Regions from separate parts of the Homo sapiens genome. Here region 2 is linked to region 1. The links come from fine-mapping of genetic effects on gene expression. A gene starts in region 1. The other region holds a variant in brackets. All regions are shown on one strand. Distances are between the middles of the regions. Region 1 holds the start of CNIH2 (cornichon family AMPA receptor auxiliary protein 2). Region 2 holds the start of RNASEH2C (ribonuclease H2 subunit C).

Region 1 (9,152 bases):
GGGATTCAGCTTAGGGCTGCCCCCTATACAGTCCCTGTAATCGGCCCCCATCTCCTCTTCAAGCTTTCCAGGAGCAGAACCGGGGCCCACATATTTGCAGTAGTTTATTCATATTTTGTCACAAATGGCCGGGGAGGGGGTGCCGGACTCCTCCAGGCGACATAGAAAATAGGTCCAAGAGACAAGGTGGGCTGAGGTTGGGGCAGATGGAGACAGGGCTGGAGAAAGAGCCTGGGGGAGAGGGGAGGGCAGACTAGGGGTGGGGCTGCCCCCCTGCTGAGCCTGCTCATTCCCGGTGCGGGTACCCCCCCACCTGCAGGGGGAGCCTCAGGGTGGGGGTGGAGGGGGATGGCCCAGAATTTCCAGGGTCAAGCTCTGCCCCTTGGCAGGGCCCAAGTTTCCCCCGAAATGGACAAGGCCGGAGGTCCTGCCCCTTCCAGGAATGACTGCCATGCCCACAGGCTGGCAGAGGAGCCCCTGCCCCTGTTTAGAGCTCTGCCCAGCCGCTCTAGTCCAAGGGGGAGGGCTCTGAAGGCGGGGTGGGGGGGGTTCCCCGCAGCAGCAGTTTGGGGGTTGGAGAGGCTGGGGGCACCAGTGCCCCCTCCCTCCCCAGGGCTGAGGCCTCTGCGGCCAAGGGGCAGGGCTGGGGGTGCACAGGCGTCCGGTCCGTTCTGGGCTCGCTCCCTGGCCGGCTTCCCCCTTAGAAACTCACCAACGTATAAACCATACTGTAGGAAGATGAGCCAGTGAGCCTAGCCCTGCACACACACAGCCACCCAGATGCCCACCTGGTCACACCCTGGGCTGCCCTCAGTCCTCAGGGGCAAAAGGCAGGAACTTGGGATTGGAAGCGTGATGCTGGGACATCCCTTCCCTGAGTTCTGACTGCTGTGGGCAAGGCCTCACCTGTACAGGTAATAGAAGAAGGAGAGCAGGTAGAAGGCAAGTTTGCACCAGGACTCCTTCTGGCAGTAGTTGAGAATGTCAGCATTCATGATGGAGACCGCATCATACATGACCTCAGAGCCATCTGCAGGACGGTGGAAGTACCTGGGGCAGACAGGGGCCTGAGTGTCTGCCATCAGGACTCCCACCCCCATCCTGCCCCTGTTCCCCATCTCAGCCTCCCCAAGGCAGCTGCTACCCTCACCTCCAGAGGTGGTAGAAGAGGAGGGGGATGTTGAGGCCCAGGGTCACCCACTCTGCTGCACACAGAAACATCAGACAGAAGAGGCCGTGGATGGAGTATTCTGGGACCACCAGCTGGGGGAGTGAGGGTGAGAGGTCAGCGGCCTGGTGCTATGACAGACCAGCCTTCAAGGGGACAGAGAGGAGCTGGGGTTTGGGAGGTGCCCACCCACCGTGACCTCTGGGGATTAAAAGGCCTCTGGCTTCCCACTCCCTCCCAAGTAGAGTGGATCAAACAGGCCCAAAGCAGGGGAAGGCCTGGTTCTGGGCCACAGACAGTGGGGGCAGCGCTGGGCTAGGAGCCTCCTGCCCCCAGCCCTGACACTGACCTTCCTCAGGAGGCAGCAGATGCGTTCGATGTTTTTTAAACGCTCGCGCTGTTGGGGGAAGGAAAAGGCCGCGATGGGGTGGCGGAGAAGCAGGTACTGGAGCAGCTCCCACCGCTCCACATGTGGCCGCCAGGGGGCGCCAGAGCGATCTCTGCGGCACTGTCGGCACGGCCGGGAAGCAGCCGCGCCGTCCCCATGGCGACCGTCACCATGGAAGGGCCTTCACCCGCGTCTCCATGGCAACGGCCCAGAGCCTGGCAACCACCGCCCCGCCAAGAGGAACTCAGCCCTGAGCCCGCGCCAGGTGTTTGCTGGGGGCGGAGACAGAGAGGAAGGGGGCATGGCCGTAGGCCCCCCACCCCACCCCCGTCTTCCCGTCTCCCACCCCCAGCCCACGACAGATGGAAAGACAGACGGACGGACACACCTCGGCACAGCACATGTATCACTTACTGCCCGCGCAGGGTTCCCCTGGTCGATGGGGTTCTTGAAGTCGGTCCGCAGCTCATCAAAGGCTATGATCTGGGGGAGGGGCGTGTGCCCGTCAGGGTTGGGGCAGCAGCTTATGGCCTTCCCCCAAGTCCTTCTGTGGGATAGTTTACTGAAGAGGACCAGCCAGGTGGAGCTTGTTGCAAAGGTGGAGAAACCGAGGTCCAGGGAGGAGCAGGGCCTGGTCCAAGGTCATTACAACAGTCCAGAAGGGAACCCTAGCGTCTGGATGCCCAGTTCAGGCCCATGTCCACTACACCCCCTTCCAAAACATCCCAAGACATGGCTTCGTGTCTGCCCTGCCAAGTCTCAGGCCCTGTGCTGAGCACTGGGGCTCCAGAGGCCTGGGATGCAGCCCCTGCCCAGGAGGAACCCAGGCCCAGAGGGATGATCACTCTGCCTTCCAGGTGATCAGGGTTTGGGGTACAGGGAGGACCTGGAGTGGGCGCTTAACCCTGTGTGGGGGGTGAGGGAGTTCAGGCTGGACTCGGAGTAGGTGTTGGTGAGCAAATGGGGGAAATGCAGTCCAAGCAGTAGAAGGTGCAATGGCAGAGGGGTGAAAGGTCAGGAGACATTCAGGAGGCTGCGGGTTTCATGGGGCTGGCGTGACAGCGCAGCGAGCAGGAAGAAAAGAGAGAGTGGTGGAAGAGGAGCTGGAGAATTCAGCAGAGCCAGACATGGGCGCCCTGTGAGGCCAGAGCAGGAGTTTGGACTTACTTTAACACAAAAATTTTGGGGGGAGGCATTGAAGAGTACACAGCAGCAGAGTGGGGTGGTCAGGTCCATGTCTTAGGATTGGTCCATGTCTCAGGATTGGTGGGGCAGGAAATCCGAGCTCACTGACAGTCACAGCTGAGATCTAAGTGGTGCTTCTCCTGGCCGGTATGTGGATTCACTCATTTAATTCTTAACAACCTTATGACTTAGGTACTAGTTTTATTTTCATGTCTGTTTTGCAGATGAGGAAGCTGAGGCAGGTTAAGTGACTTGTCCAGGGCCACACGGCTGGTTAGTGGATTCTAACCCAGTGTGACTCCAGAGTTAAAATTCCTAACCACTGTGTCATACTCAGGCCAGACCAGCAAGGGGACGGTTTGGAGGGTTAGGGGCAGGGCTGATGGTGGTCTGAGTGAGGAGAGTTGTAGTGGAGACGGAAGGCGTGCATGGGATTCTACAGCTCTTTAGGAGCCAGACTCCAGAGGGTTCAAATGGCTGAGAAGTGAAGGCAGAAATCTAAGGTGGCTTCAGGTGTTGGGGTGTCTGGCAGACGGCAGTGTCCTCACGGGTGGAAACTCTCCAGGGGAGCAAGTGTTTGAGGGGATGATGGGATGGGAAGGAGCTGACAGGTGACTTGGGGGAAATGGGCTGGCAGAGGAGCCTGCTGGGGTCCCCTCCTGTCGGCTCCAGCCCTAGGATGAGGCAGCAGGCCCACCACCCCCAGGCATCCCAGGCCCCAGACGGCTCAGAGAGAAAGAACATGGGCTTCCTGGAGGGAGCTGAGGCCATCTGGATCATCCCCCCTCCCCGCCCAGCTCCCCATTGACTCTGGGCAGCGCCACTTGGCACGCACAGCAACAGGGTCCACAGGGAGCAGAAGGGTGCCGTCTGTACCCCAGAGCTGGCACCACCAGCAGGCGGCGGGCGTCACCCCTCCCACCCCCCAGGCTGCCTGGCGCTGACTCAGCCCCCCGGAACAAACAATCCCCCATGGTGACAGCTGACACGCGTCACTCACCGCCAGGGTTGCCTAGGAACCACTGGGGCCTGGGCTGAGGGTCTGGAGTGGGATCTGGGGTCCCGCCCTGTTAAGAGTCTAGTTCTTAGCAGCTGTGGACTGAGGACCACGCCTCCTATCCCCTACCACCCAGCAGGCCGCACTAGGCACTCTGATGTGCACAGGTCCACTTTGCCGGCGAGGAACCAGACTTGGGACAAATGACTTGCTAAGATTGTCCAGCTAAATGGCTGAGTGGACAGAGTACCTCACACAGGTGCTCAATCAATATCTGTTGAATGAACAAAGACATTTCTTCAAAGCTTGGGCCTTTCCTCCCAGCCTGGGCACTCCACAAGGGCAAAGTCTGGGTTTTATTCATCCTTGACCCCCTCAAAGCCACCCAGAGCCTGATCTTTGGGAAGCATCAATGCAGGCGTGGTGGATAAACTGCTGAGGATCCCCTGAGGACAGGGACCCCACAGGGGCTGTGGGAAGGCCCTGGGTGGGGAAGGCCCCAAAAAGAGGCTTCTTGAATTCCAGGAGCCCTTCTCCCAGGAGCTGGTCAGCTCTGCATTCCCTAGCCTGTGGCCCCCAGCTCCCTCCAGTCCTTAGAACCCTAGCCCTCCTGCCCCTACCCCACAGAAAGAAAAATAGAGTAACTCGGGGTGCGGGGGAGAGGGGGAAAGACAAAGCAACCAAGACCCAGAGAGAGAGCAGAGCCAGGCCAAGGAGTGACAGGGCTGGAGCTGGGGTGTGTGCTGAGGTGCCTTTGGGGGCTCACTCTTCACACAGTAGGGGTTCAGTCTATGGATTCCCGATGTCAAAGAGCAAGGTGGCAGGGGATGGCAAAGGGAGCGCAGGGGGAACCATGGAGCAGGCGGCAGGTCCCAGGAAGAGAAAGGAGAGAGGAAGTGGAGAGCCCGGGAAAGAAGCAGGTGAGGCACCGGGAGGAAGGAGGGAAGGGCTATGGGAAATGGGATTGAGGGAGGGATAAGAGGACCCCTGAAAGGGAATGACAATCAGGGAGGTGTGCGCGGGAGGTGTGAGCAGAGGATGCTGAGCTGAGCCAGCCAGGGCCGAGCTGGGCAGGCTGTTACAGAAACAGGCACGGGGTTTGGGTGGGGGTGGGGACGGAGGGCAGTAAAGTGGGGCCAGGGGCCCCCAACAACCAGCTGGAGGCTGATTGATAGTTCTGTAGTGAGGGGACGGGAGCCAGGCAGAGGAGGCCCTGGAGGAGAGGAGCGGGAGGGGAGGAGGAGGGAGCCTGGGGGAAGCGATGGGTCGGATGCAGGATGAGGAATGGACATTTTGAAGAACCAGGTGTGAGGCTAGGCCAGGGCGAGGGACAGACCAAGGGGTATGTGAGAGACAAAGGGGAAGGGGGACAGGAAGAGGAGGGAAGCTGGAAAATGGAGAGGAAACCTGGGGGGCTGGGAAGCCCCCAACAGGAGGGGTAGGGAAACCCAAGGTGAGCCGGTGGTGGGGGCTAGGTCTCTGGGGGCTGATGAGAGCCAACTGCTGCTTGGTCAGGGAGGGGGCTGGGAAGGCAAAGGGTTAATGGACTCTGAGATCTGTGGGTCCTGTAAACAGATGCAGTTGCCATAGCAACCAGCTCCATCACTCTGGCTGGAAAAACCCACAAAGGCGGGGGGGGGGGGGCAGCAGACAGACAAACTGCCCGACGGACTAATGGAGGCGGCTGGATGGTGGTGGGGGGGGACATAGAAGATAAAGCAACAAAAATGCCAGAATTCCACCCCCCACCTCACGGGCTGCATGGGAGCAGAGGACGAGGGCAGAGGAGGGGGTCAGAGACCGACTGACATACACACAGACAGGCGGGGGCGGCGGAGGAAGGGGGGCCCCGGGAAGAAAGCCGACCACGGGGGGTGTTAATGGGGGCGAAGCCGACAAGCCGACGGCTGGGGGATAGCAAGTTTCCCCTGGGCTCTGAGACCACCCGCCCTGGGTCCCTCCAGCTCCGCGTGGCCCCTGCCCCCCACCCCGCCCCCAGCCCCAGCCCCAGCCCGGCCTTACGTGCCAGATGACAAAGAAGATGAGGGAGGCGCACAGCACCAGGGTGAGCATGTAGCAGAACGCGGCGAAGGTGAACGCCATGGCCCCCGCGCCGGGCGGCGGCCCGGGGGGCGCCAGCGCGGGGCCCGGGCGCAAGGGGACGCCCCCCGGCCCGCGCTTAGGGCCGGCCGGGCATGGCCCGTGGGGCTCGGGGGACGTGGGTGATGCGGCCGGGACCGGGACCGCGGGGCCGTGGGGGGCGCGGGGCGCGGGCCGGTGGGCTCGGGGGGCGCGTCCGCTGCCGGCTGCCCGGGCCCCGATCGCTCATCCTGCGATCCCTCGCCCGCGGCTCCCTCGCTCTCCAGCCCGCGAAGCCGGCGGGGCGGAGCCGGGGGCGGGGCCGCCGCGCGAGCGGCCTCGGGCGGGGCTGGGTCTCCGCGGGCCCCTCGTCTGCCCGCCCGGCTCGGGCGCCACCCCCAGCCCCGACAAGCCCGCGGCCGTTCACCCTCCGGACAGCGTAGACGCGGCCGCCCCCGGCACCCCGCACCCCTCGGCACTCCAGCCACCGGCACAGCCGCACTCGGCCCCCTCGGGCGGGCGCTCAGGGCAAAGGCTGAAGTGCGAGGCACTTGTCACTGTCGGAGACGGCAGAAGCACCTGGCTGGGACACACAATGACGCCAGGACAGGGGCTGAATGGGAGCAGTGGGGTTTTGGGGGGCGCTGAAGGAGGTTGGGCCAGGTGCAGTGGGGGCCCTCTCAGCGGCTGCGCGACCCCACACCTCTGCCGTGTGCCCCGCGGGAGTTGGCGGCGGCACGCCAGGTATGAGCTGATGGCCGCCTGCCTCTTTCCCTGACAGAACGGTGCTGGGCCCTTGGGGACAGACCACAGAAGCACAAGCAGCTTTCCTGGCCTCAGGAAACGGGGTCAAGGGCTTTTGCCAGCAGCCTTAGGACACAGAAACCAAGCCAGGACCCCCGTGCACCCCACCAAGCCCAGGGTTCCAGTTCCATCCCCCCACCCCAAGGCTGGGCTTAGACCACAGACCACACTTGGCCACCACAACTTCCTTGCAAAAACCCTCAGCTCACCCGAGGGCCAATGGAAATTTATTAATTTTTTTTGTCCTTTTCCATCTTTCCCCAAGTGGCTTTTCCTTGCAAAATGCCTGACATGACACCAGAGGGGAACCTGGGAGCGGGGGGCACCCCAAGGGGGCAGCCCAGGGACTTAAATACAAGCTGGAGGGCAGGGCACAGGTGGGACAGGCAAGAGACAGCACGAGGGACATGGCTTCTCAGGGAGACCAAAGACTTGCTTTCTTGCAGGAAGCAGCTGTGCCAGAGGGCAGGGGACTAGGATCCTGGGTGCAGAGTGGGTGAGCAGAGAGGCCCCCAATCCTGGATGGAACCCACATTCCCCAGAGAAGTAGCGGCAGGGGATGAGGGCCTTCCCTGGTGGGCTCCAGAGACGGAGTGGGGAGTGAGCCAGATGTGCTACCTTGGGGAAAGGGAGGAGGTGCTAGCAGAGTGAGGGTTAAGGCTGGTGCCCAGCCTCTGGCACGGTGGGCCTTCCGCCTCCGCCTGACATGGGGACAAAGGGGCACGGTGGGCAGGCAGCGCATGGGTCTGTCTCTGGCAGGGCAGAGGGCGGCAGGAGCAGACTCCCTCCAGGCTCAAGACACAGGCCCAGCACTGCTACCCGCCCACCCGCCCTAGATATACTCAGATCCCACCGCAGCTGGACGGCTCGAGCTGGGAGTGTAGGAAGGGAGAGGAGGCAGTGGGGAGAGGAAAGGGTGGGCTGCTGGGCCCCTGTGGCCTCCATGCCTGTCCTGAGGTCCAGCCCAGGGCCCTGGATCCCAGGTCCTGGATCCCCTGGCCACATTCCTCGCCCTGGGCACTGACTGCAGCCAGGGCAGTAGAGGCCGGGGAGACCCTCAGTTCTTGGGCAGGACAGCAGGAAGAAGAAGGAGAGAACCCAGTGCAGCATACATGGGGGTGGGAGGGACACCGACAGAAGAGCCCTCGTTCCAAAGAAAGGTGTGTAGGGGGGCATCTTGGAAAGTCACCTAGAGGCAACAGCACAGCAGGCCTCCGCCCTGCCTGGCCACAGGCCCTGAGTGTCCTCCCTTAGGGACCCTGACAGAACCGGGGCTCAGGGCAGCAGGCAGATGGGCCAGAAGGAGATGGGGAGCCCAGGACACCCCAAAGCCACAGACTCAAATGCCCCAGGAGAGGGAGAGGGAGGTACCTCCTGCCCCCTCCAGGGACATCATCTGGAGAAGGTGCCCCCTCCTGTCCCACTCCATGTGCCCCTCCTAGCAACAGCCACCGCCAGCCGGCTTTACAGGGGTGCTGTCGATCTTGAGATTGGGCCGCTCGCCCCCAGAGGCTGCTCCAGGCCCCATCCGCTTTTTGATTTCAGCAGCCATGGTCATGAACGCCTGCTCGACATTGGTGGCATTCTTGGCGCTCGTCTCCAAGAAGGGGATGCCCAGAGAGTCTGCAAACTCCTGACAAGGGAGAGGAGAGAAGAGGAGGGGAGAGAAGAGGAGGGGAGAGCAGGTGAGGGGCAGCAGGCCCCAGCGCCCCGACCCCGGGCAGACCGGCCCGTCTGCTACCTTGGCTGTGGTGTTGTCCACCACCTTCTTGGTGGTGAGGTCGCTCTTGTTGCCCACCAGGAGCTTATTGACGTTCTCGCTGGCATAGCGGTCAATCTCCTGCAGCCACTGCTTCACGTTGGCGTAGGATTCCTAAAGGGGGCCAGGGGCCAAAGTTATTTTGCTCCCAACTGTCACCCCTACCCCAGGCCTGGAGAAGACCTTCTCTGAGGGGAACAGTACAGCTCCGGGCCCCTTAAGTCCTGGGCTCAGCGATGCAGAGATGCAGAGGAAGCCCTCTGCTCCAGGCTGAACCTTCCTCCCTGCCCTCTTCCATCCGAGACCCAGAACAGCCCCAGCAGCCTGCCAGCTGCCCCAACACCTCAACAGCTGCCCCAACTTGGGCCTGCCAGCTCTGCTCCCTGCAGCTGTCTCTCTCCCTGAGACACTTGCAGGCCCTAACCACATGTGAGAAGCAAAGAGAGAGCGGACGGGAGATAGGAACAGAGAGTAACGGGTCCGCAAGAGCCACAGTTCCCACCGTGGCCTGAAAATCCCTTTAAGGTTTGAAGCCTTGGAGCACAGGAGTTCGAGGGTCCTCTCAGAGGTGGCCCTGGCCTGTGGGGAGACAGGAATCCTGGGAACAGCCTAAAATTCATCCTACTTTTGGCACCAACAGCCTCATTACTTGGCTTCAGACTCTCCCAGCACTTGCGCCCCTACCCCACACACAAAGGACAGGACTTTCAGGAAAGTGCTCAAGCTAGGGCCACTTATACTCCTTAGGAGCCAGAAGCCTGGTCATATCACA
Region 2 (16,288 bases), 550 kb after region 1:
CATTTCCCTAATGATTAGTCACGTTGAGCATTTTTTCATATACCTTTGGCCATTCATATGTATTTTGAGAAATGTCTGTTCAGGTCCTTTGCCCATTAATTCACTGGGTTATTTGTTTTCTTGCCATTGAGTTGTTTGAGTTATATATTTTGGATATTAACTGCTTATCAGATATATGGTTTGCAAATATTTTCTCCCATTCTGTTTTTGTCTCCACTCTGTTAATTGATTCCTTTGCTGCCCAGAGGCTTTTTAGTTTGATATCATCCCATTTGTCTATTTTTGCTTTTGTTGCCTGTGCTTTCAGGGTCATTTTCAAAAATTCATTGCTCAGACCAATGTCATAGATCTTTTCCTCTATGTTTTTTCTAGTAGTTTTACAGTTTGTTTTATATTTAAGTCTTTAATCCATTTTGAGTTGATTTTTGTATATAGTGTAAGATAAGAGTCTAGTTTCATCTTCTGCATTCTCAATACCATTTATTAAAGAGAGTATCCTTTTCAAATTGTATATTCTTGGCATCTTTGTCAAAAATCAATTTGCCATAAATGTATGGGTTTATTTTGGGGGCATTATATCCTGTTCCATGTGTTGATATATCTTTTTTTTAATGGCAGTACCATGCTATTTTGATTACAGTAACTTTATAATATATTTTGAAATCAGGGAGTATGATGCCTCCAGATTTGTTATTTTGCTCAGGATTGCTTTGACTGTTTGGGGTCTTTTGTGGTTCCATGTGGACTTGAGGATTGTTTTTTCTTTTTTATAAAAAAAGACTTTGGAATTTTGATAAGGATTGCATTGATTCTGTGGATTTGGGTAGTTTGGTTACTATGGACATTTTAACAATACTAATTATTCCAATCCATGAACATGGGATATCTTTGCATTTATATGTGTTTCCTTCCATTTCTTTTTTTTTTTTTTTTTGAGATGGAGTTTCACTCTGTTACCCAGGCTGGAGTGCAGCGGCACGATCTCAGCTCACTGCAACCTCCACCTCCTGAGTTCAAGTGATTCTTCTGCCTCAGCCTCCTGAGTAGCCAGGACCACACGCATGCGCCACCATGCCCGGCTACTTTTTGTATTTTTAGTAGAGACAGGGTTTCAGCATATTAGAAAGGCTGGTCTCGAACTTCTGACCTCGTGATCCGCCCACCTGGCCCTCGCAAAGTGTTGGGATTACAGGCATGAGCCACCGTGCCCAGCCTCCTTCCATTTCTTTCATCAGTGTTTTATAGTTTTCGGTATACAGACCCTTCCCCTTCTAACAGCAAAAGCATTTGACAAAATTCAACACCTTTTCATGATAAAAATAAACACTCAACAAACTAGAAATAGAAGTATACACCCTCACCATAATAAAAAGCCATATATAAAACACCCACAGTGAACACCATACTCAATGGTGAAACATTGAAAACATTTCCTCTAATATCAGGAACAAAGCAAGGATGCTTGCTTTCACTATTTCCATTCAACATAGCACTGAACATTCTAGCCAGAGCAATTAGGCAAGAAAAAGAAATAAAAGGCATCCACACTGGAAAGGAAGAAGTAAAATCATCTCTGTTCACTGATTACATTGATCCTTTTTTTTTTAGTTGGGGTCTTACTCTATTACCCAGGCTAGAGTGCAGTGGCACAATCATGGCTCACTGCATTCTTAAACTCCTGGCCTCATGTGATTCTCCCACCCCAGCCTCCCAATTTGCTATGATTACTGTTATAAGCCACCAGGCTCAGGCCTGATATGATCTTTTATGTAGAAAATTCTAAAGGTTCCACACATCAAAAAAAAAAAACTGTTAGAATTAATAAATGATTTCAACAAAGTAGCACATACAACGTAAACACATAAAAAGTCGCATTTCTATGTGCTAACAATCTGAAAAGGAAATTTAAAAACAATTCCATTTACAATGCATTCAAAAGAATTAAATATTGGCCGGGTGCGGTAGCTTATGCCTGTAATCCCAGCACTTTGGGAGGCTGAGGCGGGTGGATCACCTGAGGTCAGGAGTTCAAGACCAGCCTGGCCAACATGGCAAAACCCTGTCTCTACTAAAAATACAAAAATTAGCCAGGCATGGTGGCAGGCGCCTGTGATCCCAGCTACTCGGGAGAATGAGGCAGGAGAATCGCTTGAACCCAGGAGGCGGAGGTTGCAGTGAGCCGAGATCGTGCCACTGCACTCCAGCCTGGGCGACAAGAGGGAAACTCCATCTCAAAAAATAAAATAAAATAAAATAAAATAAATCAAATAATTAAATAAAATAAAATATTTAGGAATTAACCAACAGGTAAACGACTTATACAATAGAAACTACAAAACATTGCTGAAAGAAATTAAAGAAGACATAAATTAATGGAAACACTTCCCATGTTTGTGGATTGGAAGAGTTAATATTGCTAAGATGTGAATACTACCCAAAGCAATCTACATATTCAATGCAATCCCTATCAAAGTCATGATGATGTTTTTCACTGACATTTCTTAAATAACCATCCTAAAATGTTTATGGTATCTCAAGGTGAGGCAGGGCAAATTCTTGGCTTCACTCAGGAAGGAATTCAAGAGCAAGCCGGGGGTAGAAGAAAACAGCTTTATTGAAGCAGTGGCAACGTCACAGCTCCGTGACTGCTCCTGCCATGCAGGGCTACCTCATAGGCAGTGTGCTGAGAGTAGCAGCCTAGGGGCACTTTTGCAGTTATATTTATACCCACTCTTAATGGTATGCTAATTAAGGGGTCGGTTATTTTAAAATAGCTCAAAAATGGGCAGTAACTTTCAGGTGTTGCCATGGCAATGGTAAACAGTCATGGCGTTAGTGGGCATGTCTTATGGAAAGGTGCCTTCAGTGTCTCTTCCCAGTTTCTTTTCTTTTGAAATGGAGCCAGGCTGGAGTGCAGTGATGAAATCTCAGCTCACTGCAACCTCCGTCTCCCAGGTTCAAGTGATTCTCCTGTCTCAGCCTCCTGAGTATCTGGGACTACAGGCGCCCGCCACCACACCTGGCTAATTTTTGTATAATTTTTTATATTTTTAGTAGAGACGGTGTTTCACCATATTGGCCAGGCTGGTCTTGAACTCCTGGCCTCAAGTGATGTACCCGGCTCGGCCTCCCAAAGTGCTGGCATTACAGGCATGAGCCACCACACACAGACTCTTCCCAGTTTCAACCAGTCTTCAACCTGGCCCACAGTCGAGTCCCACCTGCCTCCTACCTCATTCTCCCCTCAGAGATCAGATACTCCTCCTTAATCTGAAAGGGGTTGCAAAAGGGTGGAGGTCCATGTTCTGTAACTGCTCCCTGCTGAGTTCATGGGAATAGGCCCTGCATAGCACTAGAGGAGTAAAAATCTCCAGATACCTGACCCAAGGCGGCCCAAAGGCAGGATGCTTTCATTCTCTAGGTCAGAAGATGGATGGGTTAGAAACCTTGTGCCAGCATTGTCTTTACCTGGAACTGTTGTAACCTAGAAGACACAAACTTTATTAAGAGGTTAAACAAGCAGGCCGGGAGTGGTGGCTCATGCCTATAATTCCAGCACTTTGGGAGGCCGAGGTGGGCAGATCACCTGAGGTCAGGAGTTCGAGACCAGCCCATGGTGAAACAACATGGTGAAACCCCATCTCTACTAATAATTCAAAAATTAGCCAGGTGTGGTGGCTCACACCTGTAATCCCAGCTACTCAGGAGGCTGAGGCAGGAGAATCGTTTGAACCCAGGAGGGGGAGGTTGCAGTGAGCTGAGATCGTGCCATTGCACTCTAGCCTGGGCAACAAAGAGCAAAACTCCATCTCAAAAAAAAAAGAGGTTAAAAAAGCAAGGGCCAAAGATTAGTAATAACAAGACAGCTATCAAAGGTCCTAGGAGAGGTAAGAACCAAGTGAGACTTGGGAGGGGTTTTTTTTTTTTTTTTTTGAGATGAAGTCTTGCTCTTGTTGCCCAGGCTGGAGTTCAATGGCGCGATCTCAGCTCATTGCAACCTCTGCCTCCCGGGTTCAAGCAATTCTCCTGCCTCAGCCTCCCAAGTAGCTGGGATTACAGGCGCCCGCCACCACGTACGTCTAATTTTTGTATTTTTAGTAGACACAGGGATTCACCATGTTGGCCAGGCTGGTCTCGAACTCCTGACTTCAGGCAATTCACTTGCCTCGGCCTCCCAAGTGCTGGGATTACAGACATGAGCCACTGTGCCCGGCCGGGAGGGCATTTTTGATAATCGAGCAGATATAGCTGGAGTCAGTGACCCAGCATCTATGTGACCAGATAGATTGCTGATAGATCGTGTGAATGTTAATCTCAACCTGTCCAGGTTTTATTCATAACTGCACAGCCTCCACCTTGTTCAGCTAGTAAATAATCCAATGCTAGTCTCTTATCAAGAACTACATTTGCCAAAGAGTCTAGGAATCCCTGAATTCCTTTTAATGCCTGACCTGTGTTGGTGGCTAATGATTCCAGGGTTTGAGTCAGTTCTTTAGGGCCAACTCATGGTAGGCAAAGCCACCCCAGGGGGCCACTAGTTCTAATGCCACTCCAGTTCATGTCAGAATTAATCCTATTGATCATTCATTTCTGGTATTCCTCGGTCTTACAGGGTTTTATATGGTGACCCCCGGAAGGCCAAAGGGTGGCCAACATACACTCACCCCTGTTCCAAGTTTTTGATATACAAAGGAAAGCTACTCCTAAAAGAACAGGAGGTCCTCTGGGGAGTTAGGAGTGGTTATGGGATGTGACTTCTTCCCACTTATGACCACAAATGAAAACGAACCCATTTGGGGTGCAATAGAGGCCCTGTGAGGTGTGATGCCTATCTTTAGCCACTAAGTTGGGTCTGTGGAGATACAAGATATCTCCCCCCATTCCAACGGGGAGGACCAAACAACCCTGGTAGGGTTTTCTGGGTTTTGTTTGTTTTTTGCTTTTTGACAGTTGACAGAGCTAGCTGAGGCTTTATCTTGAAAAAACAAAACAAAACAAAACAAAACAGTGGAATTGTTTTGTGATGGAGGCATGGGCAAGGGAGTTACCCCACACAAGTGGGCTGTGGAGGAGGGCTGAGCCTCAAGTGGGTCTCCTGTTCCCTGCGCTTTCCTGCACAGCAGCCTCCCCCACAAGCTCTGGGGCAGCTGCAAGAGGGGGTAGGCTGGGAGGGACTGCCATAGTTGTTCGCTTGGGCAGGACATCAGAGGACTCGGACACCAGCTTCCCAACCATGGTCCTGGAGGAGCTGGTGCGGCTGAAGGAGCTGAAATCCCTGCCAGAGTCAAGGCTGGGGCCCAGGCCGTAGCTGAGGCCAGGGCTTGTGAGGCCCCGGGAGGCCGAGCTCAGCTGTCTACTTAAGCAGCTGCGGCGCCAGGTCCTGCTTGGCCGGCGCCAGGTCCTGCTTGGCCTGCTACAGGGCAGCCTCCAGCTCCACCAGCTCCCCACGCTGCTCAGCATCCGCGATGGCCTCTGAGGCCCTCAATCTCAGCATGGACCCCGCTGATGTTGCGGATCATCTCAGAGTTCTCCATCTTCCCGCGACGCAGGTCATCCCCGTGCTTCCCAGCCAGTGTCTGCAACTCCTCATCCTTGACCTGGTGCAGACTCTTAGCCTTGCCTGGCCGCAGTGGGCGATCTCCTCGTACTGGGCGTTGACCTCCGCGATGATGCCATCCACGTCCAGGGAGTGGCTGTTGTCCATGGACAGCACACAGACGTGTCCGAGATCTGGGACTGCAGCTTCCAGATCTCCTCTTCACACAGCTCTCTGGGGAAGTTGATCTTGTCAGTCAGCCCTTCCAGGTGAGACTCCAGCACTGCCTTGTTCATGTAAGCTCCATCCACATCCTTCTCGATGAAGGCAAATTCATTCCCCATCTCTGTCCGCTCGTTGATCTCATCCTGGTACTTATCGTTGAAGTCTTCCAGCAGCCCCTGCGTGTTGCCAAGATCTGCCTCCACCTTCAGCTTCTCCTGGCCCAGTGTCCAGCTGCTGCCCAAGGCTGTGGATGTGGCTCTCAAACACGCTGTCCATGTTGCTCCCAGCTGTCTTCTGCTGCTGCAGGATGCTCCACTTAGTCTCCAGCATTTGTTCTGCTGCTCCAGGAACTGCACCTTGTCGATGAAGGAGGCAAACTTGTTGAGGGTCTTGATCTGCTCCTTCTCCTGGGTATGCACAGCCTGGATATTGGGGTCCAGGTCCAGCTTAAGGGGGCTCAGCAGACTCTGGTTCACCATGATGGCTGTGTCGCCCACCCCCACCCCATACCACTGCCCCACCATAGCCACCACCCAGACTCATGCTGGTGCCTAGGCCACTCCAGAAGCTGCTGCTGCTGCCCACTTGGGAGAAGCTCAAGGAGCTGATGTGGGCACCGGGACCACTGGTGTAGGAGCGGCTGCTGAAGGCCCAGGGGCCAGAGATGGATGCCTTGTAGGGCTTCTGGGTCACCGTGATGGACACGATGGAGGCAGGAGTGGAGGTAGGCAGGCCGAACCAGATGTAGATTCAAGGATGGAGAAGCTTCCTCTAGGTCAGCCCTTGTTTTCCAGAAGGGGGCGGTAATCTCACCTTCCCAGATTAGGCAGTTGTTTTTTTCTCTGTATGTTCTGCTCTGGGAGAAGGCACTGTATATGGTCTCCTTGCTCACAAGTGGAATCTTATTTATCTTGCTGTGGCCTTGGGAACTTGGCAACTACAGTTGGGTCACAGCATTGTGGGGAAACTTCCACTTTTGTGTCATTAACACAACAGTGGTTGCAAAAGATAGAATCATTAGTGCCCTGGAGATCTAGATACACGCCTTGACAGAATCATGAGTGCCCTAGAGATCTAGATACATGCCTTGATAGAATCATGAGTGCCCTGGAGATCTAGACATACGCCTTCCCAGGTCCAGGCAATAGTGGTGGGGGATTTCAGGTAGAATCCATCAAGTGCACGACAGAAATTTCCACCTAATGGTCGGGGTCTGGGTACTTTGAGATTGCTATGGATGGTGAAGAGGGCTAGGGAGTTAGCCAAGAGAGTTTTTGGATCGGCCAGAAGGTGAAATTCTCTATCCTGGGGATGTTGATGACAAATCCAGCAACCATGAAGATGATTTCCTAAAGCTATAATTTTTGAAATATTTACTATAAAGTTTTGTTCCCACTTACACAGGATTAGGTTAATTGGGAGAGCAACAGGATTAACAGTGGCACATGGTATCCACCTGGGCCTTAGAGTGGCCTCTACACCCAACAAGGACAAGAGATGTTTCCTGGGAGGAGGTAGTTGCCCAAAGCGACAGAAAAGAAGTATTACAATCAGGAAGAAGAGAAAAATGTTCCCACCCACGGCGTCACGTTACCACTTATGGCTGAATATTGATTCTTTTAAATAGGTAGCAGAGGTCCTCCAAAGGTTCACAGATGTAGGTCGTGGTATCCTGCTTTTGTGCCTGTGACTCATAAGAAACAGGTTTAATCCTAGACAGGTGTACCCAACAAGTTATTCCCTGAAGTTTAGCAGCAGAGGGGATACTCAACAACACCTGATAGGGGCTCTGTCATTTCGGTTGTAATTGATCCTCAGGGGAATCTTTCTTTCCAAGTTTTTATTAAGACTAAGCCTCCTGGCCGGGCGCGGTGGCTCACGCCTGTAATCCCAGCACTTTGGGAGGCCAAGGCGGGCGGATCACGAGGTCAGGAGATCGAGACCATCCTGGCGAACACGGTGAAACCCCGTCTCTACTAAACACACAAAGAATTAGCCGGGCGTGGTGGCGGGCGCCTGTAGTCCCAGCTACTCGGGAGGCTGAGGCAGGAGAATTGCTTGAACCTGGGAGGCAGAGGTTGCAGTGAGCCGAGATCTCACCATTGCACTCCAACCTGGCTGACAGAGTGAGACTGCGTCTCAAAAATAAATAAATAAATATAAAAAAATCAGCCGGGCATGGTGGTGGGCGCCTGTAATCCCAGCTACTCGGGAGGCTGAGGCAGGAGAATCAGGAGAATTGCTTGAGCCCAGGAGACGGAGGTTGCAGTGAGCCGAGATTGTGCCACTGCACTCCAGCCTGGCTGACAGAGCGGACTCTGTCTCAAAAAAAAAAAAAAAAAAAAGGAGAGGAAAAAAATGCGTATTTCCTAGCTTTGTCCACTGGAAATATCTAGAAACAAAGGCTAACTCAGTAGCAATGAATACATCTAGTATCAGATTGGATTACTAAATATCATTTCCCACTGAAGGGAACCAGCGATCTTTGGAGAGATGTATAATTCCAAGTCTGGGGCAGGAAATGTACAAGATGAGCCAGGAACATCTTGTGGTACTGGAAAACAAAGATATGTATAAAAGATCACTAGGGTCATATCGAAAGATTCAGGAGATAACTTGAAGAGGCTTCCACTGGCAGAAGATGGGGAAATTTGCACCTCAGTAAGAATAATAACCACAATTATGTGAAACATAAAAGTGTTAATCCATTATTTATTATTTTTATTTATATTTATTTATTTAATATTTATTTAACATTTTTAAAAGGTCACCATTGGAATATGCTAGGGCAACAAATCATTATTTTAAGAACTGGAAAATAAAAGGATTTTTTTGAGATGCAGTCTCGCTCTGTCACCCAGGCTGGAGTGCAGTGGCTCGATCTCAGTTCACTGCAACCTCCACCTCCCGGGTTCAAGCAGTTCTCCTGCCTCAGCCTCCTGAGTAGCTGGGATTACAGGCATGCGCCACCACGCCCGGCTAATTTTTGTATTTTTTAGTAGAGATAAGGTTTCACCGTGTTGGCCAGGCTGGTCCCGAACTCCTGACCTCAAGTGATCCACCCACCTCAGCTTCCCAAAGTGCTGGGATTACAGGTGTGAGCCACTGTGCCCGGCCTAATTATTTTGTCTTTCTTATCCTCACTGTACCAACAGGCAATCAAATGGCTGATGGGGAGAGTTTTTCTTTATAGACCTATTTCAGCTAGTAAATGAAGAAGAAATGAGAGGACTTAGAATATCAGTTTTAGGCTGGGCACCATGCCTCACGCCTGTGATCCCAGCACTTTGGGAGCCCAAGGGAGGGGAGCAGATCACTTGAGGTAAGGATTTGGAGACCAGCCTGGCCAACATGGTAAAACCCCATCTCTACTAAAAATACAAAAATTAGCCTGGCATGGTGGCATGCGCCTGTAATCCCAGCTACTCAGGAGGCCAAGGCAGGAGAATTGCTTGAACCCGGGAGACAGAGGTTGAGCTGAGTGAGCCAAGATCGCGCCACCGCGCTCCAGCCTGGGCTACCAGGTGAGACTCTGTCCCAAAAATATGTGTGTGTGTGTGTGTGTGTGCGCGTACACACGCGTTTTAACCTCTAATGAATTAAAGGATCTAGGCAATGATCATCTATGGCTGCTAACCTCACAAAAAGAGGGAAAAACACAAAACCACCCATGAAGTAGTCTTGCCCTCTCCCCTCCCCAAAGAATCGAATTAAGCTTCTAGATGTAATTACAGAAAATACAGGTATAGATTACCTTGACACTATAGGAATGCAATTACTAATATCCAGACTACAGGAAACTTGCAAAACCAAAAACATAAAAATAAAAAATAAGATCCAACATCTACTCCCAATTTTTAAAAGCTCTTAGTAGTACAGCTTTAATGAGACATATATAACAAGTCAAAAGGCAGTTTCATGATTATTGGTGAAACAGCAGAAGCACTCCCGTGAAAGTTTCAGGAAAAAGACAATGTTGTCCTCTGATACCAGTAACATTTGAGAGACTGTTCTGCAAGTACTGGCCAAGGCAATTAGAAAAGAAAACAAATTACAAGGTGTAATGAAAAAAAAAAAACAAAAAACAAAAAACAAAAAGAAGATGTAATGGTGAGGTAAAAATTATTATTTGAAAGAGAGGTGACTAATTCTGGGGATCTTAAAATAAAATAAAAATCATTAGGAACAAAATAATTCAGTCGATATCTAGTTTAAAAATGGACATATAAAAATCAACAGGTTTGCTATAGACAAGGGGTCTGAAAACTATGGCCTGTGGTTCAAATCCAACCCCTTGTCTGTTTCTGCAAAGATTTACTGGAACACAACAACGCTCATTCATTTATGTATTGTCTATGACTGCTTTCATGCTATAACGGTGAAGTTGAGTAGCTGCGACAGAAGCCATAAAGTCCACAAAACCTAAAATATTTACTATTTGACCCCTTACAGAAAAAGTTTGCCAACCCCTGCTATAGATTAAAAAGAAAATCAGTTAGAAAATAAAATGAAAAAAATAAAAGCCCCAATTTTGGTTTTTAGAGAAAGGGTCTCCCTCCGTAACCCAGGCTGGTGTGCAGTGGTGCAATCGTGACTCGAACGGCAGCCTCAAACTCCTTGGCTTAAGTGATCTTCCCACCTTAGCTTCTTGAGTAGCTGGGACTACAGGCACATGCCACTGTGCCCCACTCATGTTTAAAAAAATTTTTTTCTTTGTAGGAACGGAGTCTTGCTATGTTTCCCAGGCCGGTCTCAAACTCCTGGCTTCAAGCAATCCTCCCCCATCTTGGCCTCCTAAAGCACTGGAATTACAGGTGTGAATCATCATGCCCAGCCCCTCAGTTCTTAATAGAAACAATTATTAATATAAGCTAAGAAGAAATAAACTTTACAATATGTATTAATAGCTATTATATATGAACAAAACCTCACAACTGTACAGATATCCAAGGAGATGTGAATAAATTGAATTATGTCTTTCCTGATAGAAAACTAAAGCAAGCCTTTTTCTAAATTAATCTGCCACTCTAGTGAAAGAGCACCAGGAATACATCTGCAGTTGAACAAATTGGGTATATTACTCCTGCACTCTGGGGAATTTCAATAAGAGGGTGCTAGAAAGGACTTATAGGAGGATTTGTGCCCATGTTCAGTGATTTCAGTCAGGGTTTAGGGAAGCCAGGCTTCTCTCTGGCTTGGATGCTGTCAGAGGTGGGGGTATGTCTATGACGGACTATCTTAATGAGTCTTGCCCAGAAGGAGAGAAGATTAGTTGGAGGCTAATGCTGTAATTGGTAAGGAAACAACAGTCACTCTCTTATGGGAGAAAGAGGGATGTTTCATGCCTTTTGTGGTTTGGACAGTGTTCACCTTTGCCAGCATTCAGATGTGACGATGGAGTGGTTCTGTTTCTGTCTTGCTCCCTCACGGTCACAGAGTGACCTTGTCCGATGCTGATGTTCTCTGAAATTGTTTATATTCAACAGAATACCAAGGCCAGCTCCCAGATGTGCAGGGATGTATAAATTAAACGCAATTTAAATCTAAATTTCCAGTTTTGTGTTTGTTTTATGTGAGAACTTGAAAAAATATATCTAAGTTGGGTGTCTGAACAAATAAACATTAGAGAAGAGCTGAGAAACCAAAGAGAGAAAATTGTGAAATCTAAAAGACTGAAAAGTGTTGATAAATTTGACTACAAAAAATTAGTCTTTGTCCTGGGTGCAGTGGCTCACGCCTGTAATTCCAGCGTGATTTGGGAGGCCAAGGTGGGCAGATCACTTGAGTCCAGGAGTTCAAGACCAGCCTGGGCAACATGGCAAAACTCCACCTCTACCAAAAATACAAAAATTAGCTGCGTGGTGGCGCAGGCCTGTGGTTCCAGCTACACAGGAAGCTGAGGATGGGGGATGGATTAAGCCTGGGAGGTCGAGGCTGCAGTGAGCCAATCAAACCACTGCACTCCAGCCTAGGCGAGTGAGACCTTGTCTAAAAGA[C/T]CAAACAACCACAAAAATAAGTCCTTGTCCAGCAAAAATCACCTTTACACAGGTTTGCAAGACAGACCACAGATAAAACATTTTCAATGCATTTAAGAAAAGGGTTGATGTCCCTAATAAACTAAAAATGAATAACCTACCTACTAATCAATATAAAAAGAGTACTTTTCAGAATCGTTTTAGATTTTTACAACGACATGTGCCATTAAAAACAATAAAAGAAAAAAACCCGGCTGGGGGCGGTGTCTCACGCCTGTAATCCAAGTACTTCAGAAGGCCGAGGCTGGAGGATCGCCTGAGGTCAGGAGTTCGAGACCAGCCTGGCCAACATGGCGAAACCCAGTCTCTACTAAAAATACAAAAATTAGGTGGGCATGGTGGTGTGCGCCTGTAATCCCAGCTACTCCGGAGGCTGAGGCAGGAGAATCGCTTGAACCCGGGAGGCGGAGGTTGCAGTGAGCTGAGACCGTGCCTGGCACTCCAGCCTGGGCGACAAAACGAGACTCTGTCAAAAAAAAATAATAATAAATAAGAAAAAGAAAGAAAGAGGGAAGGACGGGAAGGAAGGGAAGGGAAGGGGGGAAGGAAGGGAGGCAGGGAGGAGGGGGAGGGGGGAGGGGGAAGGAGGGGGGAGGGGGAAGGAGAGGGGGAGAGGGGAGGGAGGAAAGAGGGGAGGGGGGAAGGAAGGAAGGAAAAAAACAAAACACAACTGGAAAACCCTAGGACTTGAACCCAGGGAAAGCGTTAGGGGGTAAGGGGACTACACTTCCCGTGAAGCTCCGCGGCGGCTTCCCGTGAGGCCCCGCGGAGGCTTCCTGAGAGGTCCTGCGCGCTTTCCGCGCCAGCTTCAGTGTCAGCTCGCGAGCCCTGGCGTCGCGTAGGAGGGAGGATGGAGAGCGGCGACGAAGCGGCCATCGAGAGGCACCGCGTCCACTTGCGCTCCGCCACATTGCGCGACGCCGTACCCGCCACACTGCATCTGCTGCCCTGCGAGGTTGCGGTGGACGGGCCCGCCCCGGTGGGGCGCTTCTTCACGCCCGCCATCCGCCAGGGCCCCGAGGGTGAGCCCTGCGGCCGGACTACGGCTCCCGGCAGCCCCCGCGCCGGCCTGCGCGCTTCTCATCGCCTGGGCTCCTGGGGATCGTGGTCCGTCCGGAGGTGGCGGGAGGGCAGCTCCGGGCTCGACCCAGCGTGGGTCCTGCCTGAGGCCCTTTGCGCCTCCCGCTCCAGGACTCGAAGTGTCGTTTCGGGGCCGCTGTCTACGGGGAGAGGAGGTGGCGGTGCCGCCTGGCCTCGTGGGATACGTGATGGTGACAGAAGAGAAGAAGGTGTCGATGGGGAAGCCAGACCCCTTGCGGGATTCCGGGACTGACGACCAAGAGGAGGAGCCGCTGGAGCGGGACTTCGTGAGCAAAGGGATAGGGTTGAAAGGGGGTGCGGGCGGGAGCTGTAGTCCCGATGCTGAGCCAGGCCCCTTCCCCAGGACCGCTTCATTGGAGCCACTGCCAACTTCAGCCGCTTCACCCTGTGGGGTCTGGAGACCATCCCTGGCCCGGATGCCAAAGTGCGTGGGGCCTTAACTTGGCCCAGCCTTGCGGCAGCGGTGAGTAGACGAGGAGTTCCGTCTTGCCCCCGGGTGGATGGGCTGGGGAGCACAATTGCGCAGACGGAGCCTGGAGGATTCTACTGGGTAGTGTGTGGGAAGCGTAGCTCCCTGACCACTCTTCCTAGCATGTCTAGAAGCGGTTATTCTGAACAGCTGGGTCCTTCCTCGGGTATGGGGGCCAGCTTGCCGCCCTGTCTTACAAGTCCAACAGTAGAGGCGACTCCTGTTGCAGATTCACGCACAGGTGCCCGAGGACTGAGAACCAGAGCTTGAAATTCAAAGCTGCGATCCCTTCACAGCAGTAAACCAGCTCTTTGGAACCGATTCCATCACCCCAATAAAGGAGCTCTTCACAGCACCTGTGAGTCTGGGCGCCTTAGAGCCCCTAAGCCAGCATGGGCCCTTTCCCCCTCCCCACCAAGAACTTTGCATGGCTCTGGCATATAGAAACAATTTATTGCCGGGGGCAATAGGGGTAAGAGAAGCCAGAAATTTTTGCAGCCAGCACCCACCCCACCCCCAACTTCTACTTTACAAAAGAAATTTTTACAATCACCAGCCCTCTGTACAGAGCTCCCCCATCCGGATCCCTTCTCACTGTACACAGCTGCCTGGCTCCCTCTGGTCCCTGCTTCAGAGGAGGCCTGGGCCTGTGGCCAGCTGACCTTGGAGTTGGTCTGAGCCCGGAGCTCGCCTTGGTGCTGGGCACCAGTGGGCCCCTGCCAGGCCTGTCCTCTCCTTTTTGAGCTGTCCTCAGCCCCATCTCCCTTAGAGTGCTTTGTGGGAGCTGCAGTGGGGGCGGGGTGGGCTATCAGCCCCAGTCCTGCTGCCGTCTTGGCACTGCAGTGGGCAGTGTCTGGTCACCACTTCCCCCTCTTGCTCCAGTCCTTGGGAGTGAAGTGCAGACACTTGGAGTCGATCCGCAGGAGCCGCTTGAGCATGGCCCGCTCATGGCCATCCACGATGTCCTCTGACAGTGTGAGGATGTACTGGCCCTGGGCAGAGGAGATGGGTTCAGCAGGTGGTCAGCCCACAGAGGACTGCACTCTGCATCCCACACACCTGTCTCCCCTGCCTGCCTCCCTACCTTGTAGTAGTTGATGAGATTGAGGTACTGCAGAGTGGAGATGACATCCTCCTTCTTGATGCTGGTGATTTCACTAATCTCACTGTGGGAGAGCACAGGTCAGGTTCCCTGAGGACCTTTATCTGTCCCCAGGAGCCCTGAGAGAGAAAGCCCAGGAACAGACAAGCCATGCCATGTACCCCCAGGTAGACAGCGCCAGGCTCACTTGATGGTGATCTGTGGCCTCTCCCCGCTCTCCGACTTCAGCCCCATCAGGATCTCCAGGATGGTCTGGGACCAGTAGCTTCGATAGGATAGGAGGCCAAGGTCTGAGAGGGGCTTCTCAGGGGTCCCTGTTTTCCCTTCCACTTTGGAGAGTTCATAGCCTAAAGCAATGGAGCAGGAGAGGGTGAGTAAGAGGTCACAGATGAACATAAGCAACATTTAAAAACACAGGTTGCCAAGGCAGGCTGCCTAGTTCCTATCATGGCCCTGCCACTTGGCAGTTCTATGCCCTCCACTTCTCTGTGCCTCAGTTCCCTCAGGAAGAACTGAGTATTCACTCTTTCCGTGCGCTGAGCACAGTGGAGGGCATGAGGGCACTGAGAGGAGCAGCTGCAGTCAACCATGAGGGTGATCAGAGGCCAGTGAAGGCTTATGGGCAGGGGATGCAGAGAAAATGGCTCATGGGAAGAAGGGGCCTCCAATTTTCCTTTGCCATCCCGGGCTCTGTGTCTAGCCATGTAAGGAAGTGGAGACAGATTCCTGTCTCTAATCCAGACCTGAGAATGCTTGAATTCTCAAAGTCCTCCTAGCTGGGACCTTGGGAGTGTCACCTGCTGTAAGACTTGAGTGGCCTGACTGGGTGGTTGTGAGGATGCAAGGAGAAAAGGTGCACCAAGGTGCTTCCTAAGTCGGGGAGACCATTCCTGGGAGCCACGTGACTGACCCCCACCATGGCTCTTTCCCTCCAACTCGTGCTGATAGCTGGCCGCTGGGAGGCCGTCCCCAGTGAGATCCTCAGACCCTGCACAGCCCTGAGTGGCTTCACATCTCTTGGTCAGTGTCTTCATTCTCCCCAGTCAGGGACCTGGGATGTTTGTTACTTCTAGAAGCCCTTCCTCACCCTCATAATGGACCTTAGCCCCTTGCTGGTCCCACTCACATCCCGTCTCCATTGCTGTCTGAGTTCCAAGACTGAGTTTCTTCAAGCATCCACTTGTGCTACCAGGCTGAGAAGTTCTGAGGATGTGACCCCATCTGGGCATCATTTAACCAATAAAATTTCTCGAATGGACCATAACCTTGATCAGGTAAAGCCTCTGTGTCTTCACCAGGTCAACAGCTAGAACTTCCTCCTTGTTTCTCAGGTCAGAGCTTGGTTATTCCAAGTGAGTGGTGAGACAGACAGAATGGGGGGTGATGGGGAGTAAGAGGCTGGGAAGAAGGGGCCTCAGGGTTGGGGAGGGCACTGAAGAGCCCATGTGTGATGAAGTTCAGAGTCCCTTCTGGCTTTAAGAGACTGACCTCACTGGACACAAGGAGCGAGGGACAACATGCTTATGTCTATCTGCTGACAGCATTTTGGATACCTGCCTGCAAGGCTCAGGGGACAACTGGGGACATTAGCCACTGGTCCTTGCCCCAGTACTCGTATCATGGCACACGTTACCAGATACATCAGCACCAGCGGCTCACTAACCTTCTGCCCATGGCTCCAGGCAGGAGCACGTAAGTCAGATTTGGGGAAAGCTGAGTGGCACTTAGAACCCTGGCCAAGGAGCAAACTGGGGGGCTGAGAACCTACCCCAGATAAGCAGGGCAGTCAGCCTGAACGGAGAGAACCCCGGGAGAGTGCC

The links. PIP is the estimated chance that this variant, and not a neighbour inherited with it, causes the effect.
Region 2: its variant is fine-mapped to the expression of CNIH2 in whole blood (TOPMed, PIP above 0.99).

Annotation. Positions count from the first base shown.
Region 1 is chr11:66,275,146-66,284,297 of GRCh38, reverse strand. CNIH2 (cornichon family AMPA receptor auxiliary protein 2) reads right to left here and starts at 6,123. Exons shown (of 6, transcript NM_182553.3): 1 at 5,761-6,123; 2 at 1,971-2,039; 3 at 1,518-1,565; 4 at 1,151-1,263; 5 at 907-1,050; 6 at 92-728. The coding sequence starts at 5,841. The coding sequence ends at 701. It overlaps RAB1B (RAB1B, member RAS oncogene family), which reads right to left. Exons shown (of 6, transcript NM_030981.3): 5 at 8,363-8,494; 6 at 6,806-8,254. The coding sequence ends at 8,060. LOC107984340 (a long non-coding RNA gene) reads left to right here and starts at 5,773. Exons shown (of 2, transcript XR_001748274.1): 1 at 5,773-5,803. RefSeq lists an enhancer at 1,349-1,852 and a silencer at 6,018-6,347.
Region 2 is chr11:65,717,117-65,733,404 of GRCh38, reverse strand. KAT5 (lysine acetyltransferase 5) reads right to left here. Exons shown (of 13, transcript NM_182710.3): 11 at 14,656-14,815; 12 at 14,451-14,532; 13 at 13,801-14,358. The coding sequence ends at 14,224. RNASEH2C (ribonuclease H2 subunit C) reads left to right here and starts at 12,607. Exons shown (of 4, transcript NM_032193.4): 1 at 12,607-12,818; 2 at 12,988-13,163; 3 at 13,241-13,360; 4 at 13,596-15,732. The coding sequence starts at 12,647. The coding sequence ends at 13,622. It also overlaps the pseudogene KRT8P26. RefSeq lists an enhancer at 12,462-12,531 and a silencer at 12,682-12,921. The variant C/T (reference allele first, on the strand shown) is at 11,758.